2 separate regions of the Homo sapiens genome follow, and region 2 is linked to region 1. The links come from fine-mapping of genetic effects on plasma protein levels. A gene starts in region 1. The other region holds a variant in brackets. All regions are shown on one strand. Distances are from middle to middle.

Region 1 (4,709 bases):
TGGGATTACAGGCACCTGCCACCATGCGCGGCTAATTTTTGTATTTTTTTTTAGTAGAGATGGGGTTTCACCATGTTGGCCAGGCTGGTCTCAAACGCCTTACCTCAGGTGATCTGCCTGCCTGGGCCTCCCAAAGTGCTGGGATTATAGGTGTGAGCCACTACCCCCGGCCCAAGCATCCTACTTTGTTGCCCCAGATCCAAGGCCTACCCTTGGCTCTACTCTTTTTTTTTTTTTTTTTTTTTTTTTTTTGTGGCAGAGTCTTGCTCTGTCGCCCAGGCTGGAATGCAGTGGCACGATCTTGGCTCACTGCAAGCTACGCCTCCCAGGTTCATGCCATTCTCCTGCCTCAGCCTCCGGAGTAGCTGGGACTACAGGTGCCCGCCACCACGCCCGGCTAATTTTTTGTATTTTTTTAGTAGAGACAGGTTTTTACCATGTTAGCCAGGATGGTCTCGATCTCCTGACCTCATGATCCGCCCGCCTCGGCCTCCCAAAGTGCTGGGATTACAGGCGTGAGCTACCACGCCCGGCCCCTTGGTTCTACTCTTAGGAACCTGGTCCCCAGTTCTGTGGACCACCATACCCAGCACCCCCCAAGCCTGGCCTCTGCGAGCTCAGAAGTTGGGCCTGGCTGGCACCTGCATTCACACTGGCTGTGTTCTTCCAGGGACATCTCCCCCAGCTGACTGCTCGGGTACCGGATCATGAGGATCTGTGCTCAGGAGAAGAACAGGGGGGACAGTGAGGGAGAGAGAGAAAGGGGATGCTCTAAGACTGAAGGGAGAAAAGCTCACCCAACAGCCGGGAGGCTGGCCACCAGCCCTCCCCCCAACCCTGTCTCCTGTGCATCAGTCTCCAGGCTGCCCCAGCCCCAGAGCCAGCCAGCATCCACCCTGCCCGCTGCCCCACCTGCCCAGTACCTGCATCCCCTGCCCGTTGCCCCACCTGCCCAGTACCTGCATCCGGACTTGGTGCTGCCCAGTGGGCACACACTCCAGGCCATCGTCAGGGCAGCAGCCACCACAGCGCTGCACAGTCACGCAGCTGGGCACCAGCTGTTTGGCCACGGTGCCCATGAGCTCCACAGTCAAGGGCACCACCACCTCCCGGGGCTGGCAGGTAGCGCGAGTATACACATCTATCCATGACACCACTGGGAGCAGACCGGTAGGGGTTAAGTCCTCACTGGTTTTCCTGCAGCTGCTCCCAGCATCTGTCCTCCCCAGTCCCCAAGTCACAGCCACCCTCCACTAGCCCTCCCCACTCTGCCCTCACAACCTGTCTTCCCCTGCCCTGTTTATCCAGATCCCAGTAACCCCACTGCCTCAATTTCCTCCTCTGTGAAATGGGTAGAATAATAGTTTGAATCTTCTAGGGGAGTTACACAAGATGATGGACACCTGGAATCAGGGCCCATGACAAACCCTCTTAGTGCTGGCTAGTGCCGAGTTTTTGTAAGTATTACCTTTCCTCTGGTGGCCAGGGGCATCAGGCTGGGAGACAGGGGCCTGTGGGAGAGAAAAGACCTGTACCCAAGGTACACTTTAGGAGGGTGTGGCCCTGTCACCGTCCCTGGGGCTTTGCCCTTGCATCAGTAGGCTTCACCACCTCTCTGACATCTTTCCAGATTGCTCTGTTCCTGCGGCCACTGCTCTAGCTTTACCTGTCCTCTCCTGGCCACCCGGGACCTGCCCTGGCCCAAAACGCAACAGGTGCTCTGGTGGCCGCGCCAAATCTCCAGGCCGCGGAGCCGAGCATGTTTGGGGGCTGCATGCAGATCAGGAGCGCGCACAGTGCCCACCGAAGCAGGTCCTGCAGGCACCGAGGGAGCCCCGCCCCCGGCGGTGCCCAGGGGACGGGGTGGGGCGGAGGAGTGGCCCCAGACTGGGGCTGGCGGGCCAGCGGGGAGGGGCACCTCCCAGGGGATGCACGCGCCGGGCCCCCGAGACGCCCGCGTCCAAGGCCGGACCCCGCAGATCCCCTCGGCCGAGGCCGCGGGTCGCCTCCTCACTTCCGCCAACCTTGAGAGAGGGCACGGCGGGCGGGCGGGCGCGCTGTCGGGCCGCACGTACCTGGGCGGGGGCCAGCTGCAGGAGTGCGGCGAGCAGCAGGCGGCGGAGCAGAGGGCTCATGGTGCCCGCCGGGGCCGCCCGCCGGGGGCGCCCGCATCGCCCTAGCCCGGCGGCGCGGGGGGCGGCGACAGCCAGAGCCCCATGGCGCGGGCCCGGGCGCGGCGGGCGGGGGCCGGGCGCGGGGGGCGACTCCTCCGCGGCCCCCTCCCGAGCCCTGGGTGCAGGCAGCGCAGCGCAGCGCAGCGGAGGCGGCCGGAGGAGCCGGGCGGGCGGGCGGCCGGTGGCGGCGGGCAGCGGCGGCGGGGACGGCGGGGGCGGCGGGGGGCTGGGCCCGGGCTGGCGGGCAGGCGGCTCATGTGACCCAGACACGCGCTCCCCACCGGCCCGTGGGGCGGGGGCGGGGCGGCGGGGTGGGGGGGCGAGGCCGTCGGCGGGGCCCGCCTCCTCCACACACCCCCTCCCGCCTCCCGCCGCGGCAGGGGAAAGGGGACGCACCGCCCAGGAGGCTGGGCTCCCCAGTCGCCGCCGCCACTACCCGGAGGGCGGGGCGCTGCCCCTTGGCGAGGCCGGGGCCGGGGGCGTCGGGCCTTAAGGAGGGAGCCGGACACGAGCTCTGCGAATCACTTTATTGCGCGCGTTTCGGGGAGCGGGCCGTCCAGGGAAGGAAGCAAAGCGGGAACGCACTGCAGGCCCCATCCAGGTGAGCCCCTCAGGGGCCGGCGCCCCGGGGCACGATCTCGGGGCCTTGGGTTGGCTCGGATGGTGGCGGCTGCCGCTGCCCTAGCCGTTGTCGCTCCTGCTGAAGGATGCCTCTGTTGGCCCTGGAGGAGAGGGCACCTGGGTGGTTGGGATAGGGATCCCGAAGTGTGGTTCCTGGACAGGGAGCAGGGAGCAGAATAGAGCAGGGACAGACCTGGCCCGTGCCCGGGCTTCGTTGTAGAAGGCTGTGATGATCCGATCCTTTTCATCCATGAAGTTAAGGTGCATCTGCTTCACCTTCCTGCAATGGGTCACAATTAACCCTGGGAATCCAATTCCTGCTGTCCCTGAAGTCCTGCCCCCTTCCACCCCACTCTAGGGGCCTCACAGCTTTTTACCCTTACACAGGGTTAGGAACCTCAGTCTAACCCTTCCTGTGATAGATAGGGAGGGCTCAGAGTGGCCCTGGCTTGTCTAGGGTCCAATGGCATCCGAAGTCCCTGGTCACTTTGAGGTGTGACAGCAGCTGTGGACATGGGGGTGCTCCTCCCAGAAGACTAGAAAGGGTATGCGTCTAACTCCATCACTGAACTAGGCAGGCTGCTAGCAGTGGGCACTGGCCTTTAGGTATCTGCTATAGAAAATCGGCTTTGTGGCCAGGCGCGGTAGCTCTCACCTGTAATCCCAGTACTTTGGGAGGCTGAGGCGGGTGGATCACCTGAGGTCAGGAGTTTGAGACCAGCCTGGCCAATATGGTGAAACCCCATCTCTACTAAAAATACAAAACAACTAGCCGGGTGTGGTGGTGGACGCCTGTAGTCCCAGCTACTCGGGAGGCTGAGACAGAAGAATTGCTTGAACCTGGGAGGCAGAGGTGGGGTTGCAGTGAGCCGAGATTGCGCCACTGCACTGCAGCCTGGGCAACAGAGTGAGACTCCATCTCAAAGAAAAAAAAAAGAAAAAAAGAGAATAAAGAGAATCAGCTCCGTGGCACGCGTGAGAGTGGCAGGGAGATGCCTACTGCCAAATGAATGAGCTGTGCTGCATTTGCTGCTTGTGCTTGATTTTGTTTGGCTCAATCCCTTCCTGGCAGCCAGCATGAAAGATTTACATTCGAAATATGAAAAACTGTAAATGACAACGTTAGCTCTTGGTGCAGCGCTGCCTTTAATAAGTAAGGAGAGGCTCCAGAGACCAACTTCAAGCAGCTCTTAGCTTGAGAGACACAAGAGTACGGGCCACGAGGTGCTGTGGAGGACTGGCTGACCACACTGGAATTCACCCACCCTCCTGCCCTCTGCCCATCACCCCGGGGAGAACAGGCATCACCTGAAGGCAATGTAGTGCAGGCCCATGCCCGCCAGCATGAGGAGGAGGCAGTACCCCAGCACTTGTTTGTTTTGTTTGTGTTGCTGCTGCCTCAACTGGGGCCCCTGTGGCCTCACGCTGTGAAACTGGGACCAGTACTGTGCGTTGGGGGGTGTCCAGGAGCTGCTGGGAGGCAGAGGAAGGGACATTGTGGAAATGAGACTACCCAAGAGACCTGGGGGTGGGGCAAGCTGAGGGCAGGATTACTGTACCTGTGTGTTTGGTGGGCAGACTTGTCATGGACTGTGGTTCGTGGAGACTTTGGGGGACTACCTGAGCGGAGCTGGTCATCATAGCTGCGGCGGCTCTGCTCACGGCTGAGCACACGGTATGCCTCGCTCAGCTCCACAAAGCGGCTGTGCAGGCTTGGGTTCCCAGGGTCCCGGTCTGGGTGCAGCTGGGGTGGGGCAGGACTCCCCTTATCTCCCTTTGCCTGTCCCTCCCCAGGACCCATGCTGATGACATCCACCCACCAGGGCTCCAGTCATACCCAGAGGCCCTGCCTGGTCAGTGACCCTCACTCAGGCCTGCCCACTCCTCAGAAGGCCAGAGAGCATGGACTCCTGC
Region 2 (12,947 bases), 76 kb after region 1:
ATCCTGTGACTCTTCCCGGCTGGATCCCCTTTCAAAAGTGCAGGGAAGTGGCTAATTGGCTGGGCCTCCGTGGTGGAGTAGGTGTGGCCTCTGGGCTGGGCAGGCAGGATGGGGGGGTCCTGCGGTGTTAGGGGTGAAGAGAAGATGGCTTTCTCGGGACCAGAGGTGGAAATCAAAATGATTTACTCCTGACATGAATTGTGTGGCCTGCGCCAGGATCTAAAAGTGACGGCAGAAAGCACCGACTTTAGCCCGTGAGCAGATGGAGAACTTGTCAGGCACTTGGCCCTTGCCCCAGAACAGCAGGAGGAGTTTGGGGCTGGCAGAGACCCCTGGAGGGGGAGCCACTGTCCCCACAGAGACCCCTGCTCCCCTGAGCACTCTCTCAGAGGACAACAACCCAGGAGGGTGGGAAAGAGCTACGGAGACAAGGTGCCCAGGCACCTGCTCGAGGGCTGCCGCTGTTTTTAGGATCCAGCCCCCACAGCCCCACTCCTTGGTGCCAGGAAAGCAACCGGACCTTGTGATGGGGCTGGGGTTCCTGGGCTGCTGTGTTGTCACTGGGGTCTCCCTTTTGCTTCGAGGTGGGATTTCCAATCATGCAGCAAACTTTTATTGAACGCCCCCTAGGTGGTCAGGCTGGGGACTCAGACATGTGTCAGATAGGCAAGGGCCCTGCCCTCATGGAGCTTGTAATCTGGTGTGAGGATTACAAAGCATCTATTGTAAAGAATGTGTTCTAGCAGCTGAGACAAGGCCCGGTAACCTCAGTGCTGTGAAGACACCATAGCAGATGGGGCCACCTGAGCTGGGGAGATCAGAGGAGGCGTCTCAGGGGTGGTGGCCTGAGAAGAGGCATCCAGCTGGGTAATGATATTCCAGACCCGTTATTGAGTGACAGTGGGCCAGGCCCAAGGAGTGGGGCTGGTCTGGGGCTCTGCCTGCTACTGAAGCCACAGTTAGAGGGACGCTTTCGGGGGTGAGATGTGGAGATCCCCCAATAGTTATCTATTTCTGTGTAACAAAACACCCCGAACCTTAGTGGCGTAAAACAGCAAACCTGCATTCTCTCCATCTCTTGAGGGTCAGGAAACTGAGAGAAGCTTAGCTGGGTGGTTCTAGCTCAGGGTCTCCCTCCCTCTGAGGCCGGGTGGGACTTGGTTAGGGCTGGAGGATGGGCTTCCTAAACAGCTCCCTCCCATAAAATGGCATTTGGTGAGAGGCCTCGGTTGGTCACTTTGGGGCCTCTCCATGGGGCTGCTTGAGTGCCTCACATGGGATAGATGTCCTAAGCTTTTCCCCCAGAGCATATGCTCCACGAGAGGGATCGTGAGGAGACCCCGATGGAGCTGCAGTGCCTTCTTTGTGACCTCGTCTTCGAAGTCTCTCCTGCTTTATTCTAGGGGTCAGAATCGAGTCAGGGAGTCTGGCCATACTCCAGGAGAGGGAAATTAGGCTCTACCTCTTGAAAGAAAGAATCTCAAAGAATTTGAAGGTGTGTTTTTATTTTCTTAAAAAAATTTTTTTTTGAGACAGTTTCACTCTTTTTGTCCAGGCTGGAGTGCAGTGGTGTGATGTCACTGCAACCTCTGCTTCCCGGGTTCAAGTGATTCTCCTGCCTCAGCCTCCTGAGTAGCTGGGATTACAGGCACCCACCACTATACCCGGCTAATTTTTGTTTGTTTGTTTGTTTGTTTGTTTGTTTTTTAGATGAAGACTTATTCTGTTGCCCAGGCTGGAGTGCAGTGGTGTGATCTCAGCTCACTGCAACCTCCGCCTCCGGGGTTCAAGTGATTTTCCTGCCTCAGCCTCCCCAGTAGCTGGGATTACAGACGCGTGCCATCACGCCCGGCTAATTTTTTTGTGTTTTTGGTGGAGATAGGATTTCATCGTGTTAGTCAGGATGGTCTTGATCTCCGGACCTCGTGATCTGCCCGTCTCGGCCTCCCGGAGTGCTGGGGTTACAGGCGTGAGTCACTGGGCCTGGCCAATTTTCTTAAATTTTTTTTTTTTGAGATGGAGTCTTGCTCTGTCACCCAGGCTGGAGTGCAGTGGCGCGACCTTGGTTCATTGCAAGCTCCTCCTCCTGGGTTCATGCCATTCTCCTGCCTCAGCCTCCCGAATAGCTGGGATTACAGGTGCCCGTCACCATGCCCAGATAATTTTTTGTATTCTTTAGTAGAGACAGGGTTTCACTGTGTTAGCCAGGATGGTCTCAATCTCCTGACCTCGTGATCTGCCCGCCTCAGCCTCCCAAAGTGCTGGGATTACAGTCGTGAGCCACTGTGGCCGGCCAAAATTTTTAAAATTAATTTAAATTTTTTTCGAGACAGGGTCTCGCTCAGTTGCTCAGGCTGAAGTGCAGTGGTGTAATCATAGCTAGCTGCACCCTTAAACTGCTGGGCTCAGCGATCCTCCTGCCTCAGCCACCTGAGTAGTTGGAAGTACAGGCGCGCATCACCATGTGCAACTAATTTTTTTTTTTCTTTTGAGACAAGGTCTGTTGCCCACGCTGGAGTGCAGTTGTGAGATCTCAGCTCACTGCTTCCTCAACCTCCTGGGCTCAAGCGATCCTCCCACCTCAGTCTCCCAAGTAGCTGGAACTACAGGCATACGCCACCACGCCTAGCTAATTTTTTGTATTTTTTTGTAGAGACAGAATTTTGACATGTTGCCCAGGCTGTTCTCAAACTCCTAAGCTCAAGCGATCTACCCACCTCGGCCTCCCAAAGTGCTGAGGTTACAGGTGTGAGCCATGGGCTGCTAATGTTTTAAAACCTTTATTGTAGAGACTGGGTTTCACCATGTTGCCCAGGCTGGTCTCAAACTCCTAAGCTCAAGCGATCTACCCACCTCGGCCTCCCAAAGTGCTGAGGTTACAGGTGTGAGCCATGGGCTGCTAATGTTTTAAAACCTTTATTGTAGAGACTGGGTTTCACCATGTTGCCCAGGCTGGTCTCAAACTCCTAAGCTCAAGCGATCTACCCACCTCGGCCTCCCAAAGTGCTGAGGTTACAGGTGTGAGCCATGGGCTGCTAATGTTTTAAAACCTTTATTGTAGAGACTGGGTTTCACCATGTTACCCAGGCTGGTCTCAAACTCCTGGCCTCAAGCAATCCGCCCACCGCAGCCTCCCAAAATGCTGGCATGACAGGTGTGAGCCACTGTGCCTGGCCAAGTGTATTTTTTAAGCCATCACATTATGGGAGATCTGGGGGGCTGCCCCAGCTGGACTCTGCCTTTGATTAGGGTCTGAGCCGTGGCCCTTGAAGACTGCTACACTTTTCATCGTTACATTCAAATCACACTTTCAGCCAAGTTACATTTGACAGTCAAGTGCTGCAAGTGTAGAGATCTTCAGTGCACAGTGTATGCAACTGTGCAGTCACTACTTGGGTCAAAAGGTAGAGCATTGCCATCACGCCAGAAGTCGCCTCTTTTCACTTGGTACTGTCTGGAGCTAATCACTCTTGTGATATCTGTTCATTTTGTCTCTTCTTGAAGTCTGGCCCCTTTTACTCAATATCCGGCCAGTTCGTCCTTGTTATTGGATGTGGCAATGGTTCCCTCTTTTTCATTGCTGTATAGTGTTCCAGCATATGAACGTACCACAGCTTGTTTCCCACTCTTTTGTTGTTTTGTTTGGTTTTGTTTTTTGAGATGGAGTCTTGCTCTGTCGCCCAGGCTGGAGTGTAGTGGCACGATCCTGGCTAACTGCAACCTCCGTTTCTTGGGTTCAAGCGATTCTCCTGCCTCAGCCTCCAGAGTTGCTGGGATTACAGGCACCCGCCACCACGCCTGGCTAATTTTTGTATTTTAGTAGAGACGGAGTTTCACCATGTTGGCCAGGCTGGTCTCAAAATACTGACCTCAGGTGGTCTACCTGTCTCGGCCTCCCAAAGTGCTGGGATTACAAGTGTGAGCCACCATCCCGGCCCCCACTCTTTTGTTGATAGGCATTTGGGTTTCTTGTGAATAAAACTGTGCTGAACATTTTTTTTTTTTTTTTTTTTAGATATGGTCTCATTCTGTTGCCCAGGCTGGAGTGCAGTGGTGCAATCACAGCTCACTGCAGCCTCCAACTTCTGGGCTCAAACCATCCTCCCACCTCAGCCTCCTGAGTAGCTGGGACTATAGGCATGTGCCACCATGCCTGGCTAATGTTTTTAAAAATGTCTTGCAGAGACAGGGTCTCATTATGTTGCCCCAGGCTGGTCTCGAACTCCTGGGCTCAAGTGATCCTCCCACCTCCGCCTGCAAAAGTGCTAGCGCTGAGATTACAGATGTGTGCCACTGTGCCTGGCTTCCTGAACATTCTCTCCATGTCTCTGATGGACATGTGCTCTCATTTCAGGGCTGTACCTAGATAGGCCTCCAAATACTTGTCTGCCTGAGAGGATCCTCTCTCAAAGCCTGGCACACAGTAACCAAACTCACAAGAGACTGACGTATAGGTCAGAAGGCATATGTGCAGTTTGTGGTGGGGAAATATAATGGCAGTGGGTCTGAAAACTCAGGTGTGCCTGAGCAGAGCCTCCTCTCCCTATGGGAAAGCCTCATGGAAGCCAAATTGTAATCTTAGGATTGCTCAGAGCATGCGATCTTATCCAGGGCTGGTTGAGTGATTTTGGAAGCCTTGCCCTGGGCAAGGCAGGTAAGCTTCCCTGTTTGAGAAGGGTCAGCCCACCCACAAGGATCCCCTTCCCCGGGCGTTTGCTCGGTATTTCCATCTATATGCAGTGCTGAGTGCCTGCTCTGGACCCATGGAAGGATGCCCAGCCCATGGCCCAGCTTGTCCTCCAAGCTGACGGCCAAATTCAGCTTCCCCCTGGACACTCCTTTTCTTTACCTCCAGGCTGACGCTCATTTCCATGGGCCCATTCTCCCTCTAGGTATGTACATACCTTCAGGCTGGATCTTCCTGGCTGGGAGACTTTCAGTCTTTTGGGGACACTTCAGCAGTGTCTGATTTTACTAGCCAGGGGTTACTTTCTCTAATTTATTTTTATTTATTTGTTTTTTTAATTTTTTTTGAGACCGAGTTTCGCTCTTGTTGCCCAGGCTGGAGTGCAGTGGCGCAATCTCGGCTCACCACAACCTCTGCCTCCTGGGTTCAGGCAATTATCCTGCCTCAGCCTCCCGCGTAGCTGGGATTACAGGCATGCGCCCCCATGCCCGGCTAATTTTGTATTTTTAGTAGAGACGGGGTTTCTCCATGTTGGTCAGGCTGGTCTCAAACTCCTGACCTCAGGTGATCCGCCCGCCTTGGCCTCCTGAAGTGCTGGGATTACAGGAGTGAGCCACCGTGCCTGGCCTGTTTGTTTATTTATTTGAGACAGGGTCTCACTTTGTTGCCCAGGCTGGAGTGCAGTGGTGGTATCTTGGCTCACTGCAGCCTCCGCCACCCAGACTCCAGCAATCCTCCCACCTCAGCCTCTTGAGTAGCTGGGATTACAGGTGTGTGCCACTACACCGGCTAATTTTTGTATTTTTTTTTTTTTTTTTTTCTGAGACGGAGACTCGCTCTGTCACCCAGGCTGGAGTGCACTGGTGCAATCTCGGCTCGCTGCAACCTCCGCCTTCTGGGTTCAAGCGATTCTCTTGCCTCAGCCTCCTGAGTAGCTGGGATTACAGGCCTGTGCCACCACACCGGCTAATTTTTGTATTTTTAGTAGAGACAGGGTTTCACCATGTTGTTCAGGCTGGTCTCGAACTCCTGACCTCGTGATCCACCTGCCTCAGCCTCCCAAAGTGCTGGAATTACAGGTGTGAGCCCCTGCACCCGGCCTCATTTTTCTATTTTTTGCAGAGACGGGGTTTTGCAATGTTGGCCAGGCTGGTCTTGAACTCATGAGCTCAAGCAATCCACCCACCTCAGCCTCCCAAAGTGCTGGGATTACAGGCGTGAGTCACTGTGCCCGTCCTACTTTCTCTAATTGAATACCCTCAGTTTTGAGGCACTTCTTTATCCCCCCGGGAGTGCCTTTTCATCAGAAGATCATGGAAACACCCTCACTGTAAAGGCAGTTGGG[C/T]ATGAGGGACTTAGGTTGGGCCCTTGTCGGTATCTGGCGCTGTATCATCACAGGAGGGGCCTGGCTTTGGGTCCTTGTTCCAACAGCCCCTGGCAGGCAGAGCTGTGAGCCACAAAGAGCAGGGACATTGTTGTCAGATGTGGAGACGTGCTGCTGCTTCCTCGCTCTCCAAGCCTCAGTTTCCTCATCCATAAAATGGGACCAATGGCACCTGCTTGGAGGTTGTGCTGGGATCACATTAGAAACCACTTTGGGCCAGGCGTGGTGGCTCACGCCTGTAATCCCAGCACTTTAGGGGCCAAGGTGGGAGGATTGCTAGAGCCCAGGAGTTCGAGACCAGCCTGGGCAATATATCCAGACCTTGTCTCTCCTAAAAATAAAATTAAAAAAAGAAAAGAAAAGAAATGATTTTATATATCATGGCCCAGAATGGGTCCCAGCAGCCTCCCCTTCCTTGTCACCCCTCAGGCCCTCAGGCCTGTCTCCTCTCTCTGCTCTGTGCTGGCCGTGGTGACACTGGGCTCTTGTAGGCTTGTCTCACGTGCTGGGGCCCTGAGCATGCACAGCCTAAGCCATCCTCTCCTTGGTGACTCAAGGTGGGGCTGCTACGCTCCAGCCTCACACCACACTGTGCAGAAGCCAGGGCTAATTTCAGCCCCCGTGGGATTTCATCCAGAGTGGATGGCTTATCTGATTTGACTGCAGCACTGGCAAATTTTCCAGGTACCCCTGGGAGTCGGGGGGCTTCTCCCACCTGTCTTTTGGGGACGCAGCCTTGCCAATGCCCTGGTGTGGGCAGAGACAAGGGGGCAGGGTAGAGGAGAGGGGCTCCAAGGTGCTGCGTGCTCCGTCTCCCTTTTGCTCGAGCTGTGGGCTTTGACAAGACCCTGTTCTTGCGGGCCGGTGAGCGCAGGTGATTAATGCCCCTGCCACCGAGTCTAAATGCCGCTGCATTCTGGGAGCCCAGCCTTTATCAGCCCTGCCCACCTGGCATTCTCTCTGAGAGGAGCCCTGCCTTGGTGCCCCAGCCTGCCCTCACCTCTCTGAACACCATCTTGCAAAGTGCCATAAAGACACTTCTTAAAACACAGCATTGAATTCCCATTCGCCCGCTGCACTTTATGGTTCTGGTGGAGCCTGCTTCCTCCTGCTTGGCTTTCGTGCCTGGGAGCCGCTGGAAGCTTCGTCTGGGGTCAGGCCTCTCCATCAAAATTTACTGCGGACATCTTTTTACAACACCTATCTCACTGAACTGTGAAATACTCTTGCCTCTTCAAAAATGAAAGAAAATGAAAATGCATGTTTTACATCTTTTATAACAAATAAAACTCACTTGTGCTTTAAGTCTGCATTTGTCCTTCTTACAGGAGGAGGTGGGAAATGTTAGAAATTCATGGGGCAAGGCCGGGCGCGGTGGCTCACGCCTGTAATCCCAGCACTTTCGGAGGCTGAGGCAGGTGGATCATCTGAGGTCAGGAGTTCACGACCAGCTTGGGCAACATCGTGAAACCCCGTCTCTATTAAAAATACAAAAAATTAGCTGGGTGTGGTGGTGCATGCCTGTAATCCCAGCTACTCAGGAGGCTGAGGCATGAGAATTGCTTGAACCCAGGAGGCAGAGGTTGCAGTGAGCCGAGATCGTGCCACTGCACTCCAGCCTGGGTGACAGAGTGAGACTCTGTCTCAAAAAAATAAAAAAAAAACACAGAAATGCGTGGGGCATGTTCCTGGCTTAAGGCCCCTGTTTCTCCTCCAGGGGGAACAAAGAGGGGCCTGGCGGGCGAGGATTGCCGATAAGAGGACATGGAGGTGAGATGCTGAATGGGCGCAGTTGGCCTTTTCTTTCCCCATAAATCAGAAACCAGTGCAGTGTGTAGCTCTTTGGGGATCAGCCAGGCCACAGCCTTGTTCTGGTGGTGAGGACAGACATGCTGTCTGGCCTGCTGGCCTTCTGAGGCATGCACTTGGGTCCATAGACTAGAAGGGACGGGCTGACAGATGTCCTCAAGGTCGGCGCCCAGCCAGCTGGTGGCAGAGCCAGCATGCTGTCTCTGGGAAGTGGAGCAATCCTGTGGGCTTTGCTGGAGAGAAGGGGCTTTGTGGGCTGTGGATCACTCAGACCAGGCTACCATGCTTAGGGAGGGCAGTGTGGGAGCAAGTTCAGGTTCCTCTCGCTTATGTGTGACTGGGGGCAGGTCACTCTGCCTCCTCTCTAGAACAAGGTGGTGGCATCTGCCAGATGATATCTGCTAGGGCACCTGAGGTGTCTCTGGTCACGCTGGTCTAGTTCCATGGGATTCCCAGGGCCTGCCCAGCCAGAGACACTTCAGCAAGGCCTCTGGGGTCCGTCCGGGTCCCAGCCCACCAGTCCCGCCAGCATCACGGTGGGTACCTGACTTTCTGGCCACAGGTCCAGCCGTCTGGGAGTGCCCACACAGTGGCATGCCAAGGCCTCGCAGTGGGGAGGTCACAGTTGTGCAAGGTGACAAATATGGGGATTCAAATTATTTATTTAGAGACAAGGTCTCGCTCTGTTGGGCAGTCTGGAGTGCAGTGGCACAATCACAGCTCACTGAAGCCTTGACCTCCCAGGCTGAAGCGATCCTCCTGCCTCAGCCTCACAGGCAGTTGGGACTACAGGCACATGTCCACCACGCTCAGCTGATTTTTTTTTTTTTTTTTTTTTTGAGATGGAGTTTTGCTCTTGTTGCCCAGGCTGGAGTGCAATGGTGTGATCTCAGCTCACCGCAACCTCCGCCTCCCAGGTTCAAGCGATTCTCCTGCCTCAGCCTCCCGAGTAGCTGGGATTACAGGCATGTACCACCACACCCGGCTAATTTTGTATTTTTAGTAGAGATGGGGTTTCACCATGTTGGCCAGGCTGATCTCAAACTCCTGATGTCAGGTGATCCACCTGTCTCGGCCTCCCAAAATGCTGGGATTACAGGTGTGAGCCACCATGCCCGGCCGCTCAGCTGATTTTTTGTATTTTTTGGTAGAGATGGGGTTGCTCCATATTGTCCAGGCTGGTCTCGAACTCCTGGGCTCAGGTGATTGGCTTGCCTTGGTCTCCCCAAGTGCTGGGGACCCAAATAATTAGAAAAGTTCCTCCGGCTGCTGTGTCCCCAAGTTGGAAAAAAAAGTTCTCCACAATTTTGTCCTGTTTGCTTTGTTCTCTTTGGGCATTATTTAGCCGCCAGGAAGGAGTGAGTGTGTCTGGCGTGTAGACCGCACTTTGCAGCACACAGCCACCTTCTCCTTTGACCCTCCCAGCAAGCCTGGGTGTTAGCAAGGGAAGGCCTGCCTTGTCCCTATTCCAGAGATGGGAAAACCCAAGGCTTCAAACTGAGCATGGTGTTGGGAGGTCACGAACCCAAACCTGGCGGGACCTATAACAGAAGAAAAGGCGCAGCCTGGGTCTAGGCCGGCTGCCACCAGCATCTGTCCGTCCTCAGACAGGGAGGCAGACCTGGAGAGACCGACTGGCCTCACTTTCTCCACCCAAATGCTCTCTCTCTTTTTTTTCTTTTTTAATTAGGGGATCATCTCTGGCTCCCTCTTACCTCTGGGCTTTTGCACATACTGTTCCCTCTGCCTAGAAGACTCTGTACTTAGCAAACTCGCCCTCAACCTTTGGTCTTGGCTCATTTATTCCTCAGCGTGCCCCTCAGGCACCCTCAGGTGCCCACACACCGTGCCAGGTGGTGGGAATCTGATGGCAAACACAGCAGATCCCCTATGGAACCTACAGGTCAAGATGGCCAAGATCAAGAAAGGGGGCCGGCGCCGTGGCTCACGCCTGTAATTCCAGCACTTCGGGAGGCTGACATGGGTGGATTGCTTGAGGTCAGGAGTTCAAGTCCAGCCTGGCCAACATGGTGAAACCCCATCTCTATTAAAATACAAAAATTAGTTGGGTGTGCTGGCACACGCGTGTAATCCCAGCTACTAGGGAGGCTGAGGCAGGAGAATTGCTTGAATCCAGGAGTGCAGGTTGCAGTGAGCCAAGATCGTGCCACTGCACTCCAGCCTGGGCGACAGAGTGAGACTCCGTCTCAAAAAAAAATAAAAGAATAAGTGTAAACAAAAGCAAACTATCCCATATCCTGCAGAGCACAGCAGGTACAAAGGGCCTGGGGCAGGAAGCAGCCTGGCTGTTTGGGGAACTGGTGTAGTGGGGGAGGCAGCATTGGGAGTGAGGTGGGAGAGAGGCCAGAGGACCGGCGTTTGAATGCAGTTTTGAACAGAGGAGGGATGGCACCTGATTTATGTTCCCAGGATCCATGGCTGCCGGTCAAGGAACAGATGGGGATGAGATGCACACGGAGATCAGCTGGGAGTTGGGAGCGTCTGTGGGATCTAGGGAGCCATGAGGAAGGCTCAGTCCTGGAGGGTGAGAGGAAGGCTTGGTTTCTAGGGTGTCACGGGGATCAATCCAAAAGAGGATGGAAAGGGAGGGACCCCTGGTGCAGGGTCTCGAGTAAAAAAGAGGGAAGAATGGAGCAACAAAAAAATGACGTTTTGGGGGAAAGAGTCAAACGTTCTGTTTTGCATGCCTGGGCTTTGGGGAATGAGAGCAGGCAGGCACTGTGGGGGTCAGAGGCTCAGAAGAGAGTGGAGGGACAGCCCCGGAGGTTGCTTGCTTAAAGAGCGTTTTGAATCTGTGCAACTGATTAGAAGACCTAGGGAGGAAAGCAGCAAGGACACTTCCTGTCCACAGGGAAGGCAGGAGGGGCCGCTGCATGGGGTGTGGTGACCTTGACCTTGTTGGAAGGAGGGACCAGACTGGGTGGACTGAAGGGAGCATGGGAGGGAAGAAGTGGAGACAGCAGAGGAGGGGGCAGCTGCAGGGGCGTGGAATGCGGGCGTTGAGGGAGGGGACGGGATTATTTGAGGGCAGGCAGGACAGCCTGGTGGAGGGGGACCTGCAGCAGTGAGTCCTCTGGGAGGTGGGCTTGGCAGGTGGCAGCGCTGGTACTGAATGCAGGACCTACTCGTGCCCAAACATGTTTATGGAAGAGGGGGCAGAAGTGGCTGCCAGGAAAGGTGGCTCTGGCTTGAGCAGCAGTGGGGGCTGACCAGGGGTGGGCCTAGCCTTTTGTGATGACCCCACCTTTGCATCCAGCAGGGACTCTGGACTGGGCCCCTTGCATGAGTTCTGTCATCTAATGCTCTCAGCATCCTTGGGTTGTTATCACCCCTGCCAGCAGTGGTTAGATGAGGAGATGGAGGCCTGGATGATGAAGTGACTCTGGCCGGGAAAACACCCTGCTGTGTGAGGGTGGCCTCCCAACCTCCCTGAACATTTGTGGAGGGACCTACCTGTCCCCCTCACTGCCATGTGCATAGAAGCTTCCAGGCTGCAGTCCTTCCTTTCTCACCACCTCCTCTAATTGCTCTCCCGCCTCTACATATTTTTTGATGCTTTTTGAGTTTCTCAATTGTAGCCTTTGCTGTTTGCCGTGGGGGCTGCCCCATCCCGGGAGCCTGTGGTCCAGGGTGCCAGGCTGGGCTGAGCGCCTGGGTGTGCAGGCGGCCTCGGGCCAGCAGGGGGAGCCCGTGAGCTGCTAGCCTGGCCTGGCGCGGTCGGGGCGGGCCCTTCTGAGACGGGTTCCAGGTTTCTGTGCCTGGTGCCACCCCCAAGGGAAGGCGGAGCCCATGGGACAGTGCTCAGGCAAGGGGAGCCGGCCAGGGTGGACCCCGAGTCTGTGAGCGGGTGGGGGGTGCCTGGCTCCTCACTCAAGTCCCTGCTGTGTGAGGGTGGCCTCCCAACCTCCCTGAGCCCCGGTTTCCTCATCTGTAAAACGAGAACGATTCCAACCCCATTGGTCATGCTGGGAGCCCTCAGCCGCTGCCGGGGGGGATGTTGGGGACAGGTGCCAGGTCCACTTGGTCCTGCAGCTCCTGGAGGAGGACAGCTGTCCCGCTGCCTGCATGCAGTGACAGTGAGGGCAGAACTGACTGGCGGTGGGACTGATGGATAATGTCGCTGGCTGAGTGCTGCCAACCGGCTTGGCCTTAGTGTGTGGGAGGAAGCTCGGAGCTGTTCTGCAGGGGACGTCTTCACCCCCGTTCTAATCAGGGAGAAACGGGGGACCCAGAGAGATGTGGACGCTGCTGGAAAGTGGCAGAGCTGAATTCATCACAACCCAGGTCTGCGATGCCTGAGCCAGTCCCTCAGCCTCCCCAGACCTCAGTTTCCCTCCCTGAACAAAGAGAGCAGGACAAGATATTCTAGGGGCCTCTGAGGTTTCCCCAGCATGCCTGCCCTGTGTGCCCAGAGAAGGAGGGACAGGAAGAGCTGGTTTGCATTCTTGGATGAGGCAAGAAAGGAGATGTGGGGGTGCAAGCCCCAGGCCCGTTCCTCTGCCCCCACCCTGATCCTCCTTCCTGCCTCTGCAGCCTTTCTGAAGGGCCTGAGTGACAAGCAGCGGGAGGAACATTACTTCTGCAAGGACTTTGTCAGGCTGAAGAAGATCCCGACATGGAAGGAGATGGCGAAAGGTAGGCCCTGCTCGGGGGAGGCCCTGGTGGGCAGGCTCCAGACCCGTGGCTTGGGAGAATTGTGCAGACAAGAAGAGCTAGTCCAGTGGCATGTATCGAGTGCTTGCTGCAGGCAGGTGCTCCGCGTGTATCACCTCATTCAATTATTTTATTTTATTTTTTGAGATGGAATTTCACTCTTTTTGCGCAGGCTGGAGTGCAATGGCTCGATCTTGGCTCACTGCAACCTCCACCTCCCGGGTTCAAGCGATTCTCCTGCCTCAGCCTCCTGAGTAGCTGGGATTACAGACATGCACCACCATGCCTGGATAATTTTTGTATTTTTAGTAGAGATGGGGTTTCACCATATTGGCCAGGCTGGTCTCGAACTACTGACCTCAAGTGATCTGCCCGCCACGGCCTCCCAAAGTG

Alleles and levels. Alleles are on the strand shown, and positions count from the first base shown. The strength of an association depends on the size of the effect and on how common the allele is.
With allele T in place of C in region 2, the plasma level of the protein whose gene starts at base 2,385 in region 1 is higher (weak association).

What was found. PIP is the posterior inclusion probability: the model's chance that the variant is causal. Protein levels are from antibody-based Olink assays in UK Biobank. Linkage for the fine-mapping came from a reference panel and not from the study's own genotypes, which makes the PIPs less certain.
Region 2: its variant is fine-mapped to the plasma level of the VEGFB protein (UK Biobank, PIP above 0.99).

The regions. Positions count from the first base shown.
Region 1 is chr11:64,232,260-64,236,968 of GRCh38, reverse strand. It overlaps VEGFB (vascular endothelial growth factor B), which reads right to left and starts at 2,385. Exons shown (of 7, transcript NM_003377.5): 1 at 2,076-2,385; 2 at 1,469-1,511; 3 at 960-1,156; 4 at 642-715. The coding sequence starts at 2,135. It overlaps DNAJC4 (DnaJ heat shock protein family (Hsp40) member C4), which reads right to left. Exons shown (of 6, transcript NM_005528.4): 3 at 4,355-4,539; 4 at 4,104-4,265; 5 at 2,989-3,075; 6 at 2,688-2,896. The coding sequence ends at 2,785. RefSeq lists silencers at 1,758-2,127, 2,348-2,837.
Region 2 is chr11:64,151,881-64,164,827 of GRCh38, reverse strand. MACROD1 (mono-ADP ribosylhydrolase 1) reads left to right here. Exons shown (of 11, transcript NM_014067.4): 2 at 12,435-12,536. Among named protein-coding and RNA genes, the nearest start is that of MACROD1, 7.8 kb to the left of the region's middle. RefSeq lists enhancers at 10,454-11,448, 11,449-12,444 and a silencer at 11,488-11,707. The variant C/T (reference allele first, on the strand shown) is at 6,033.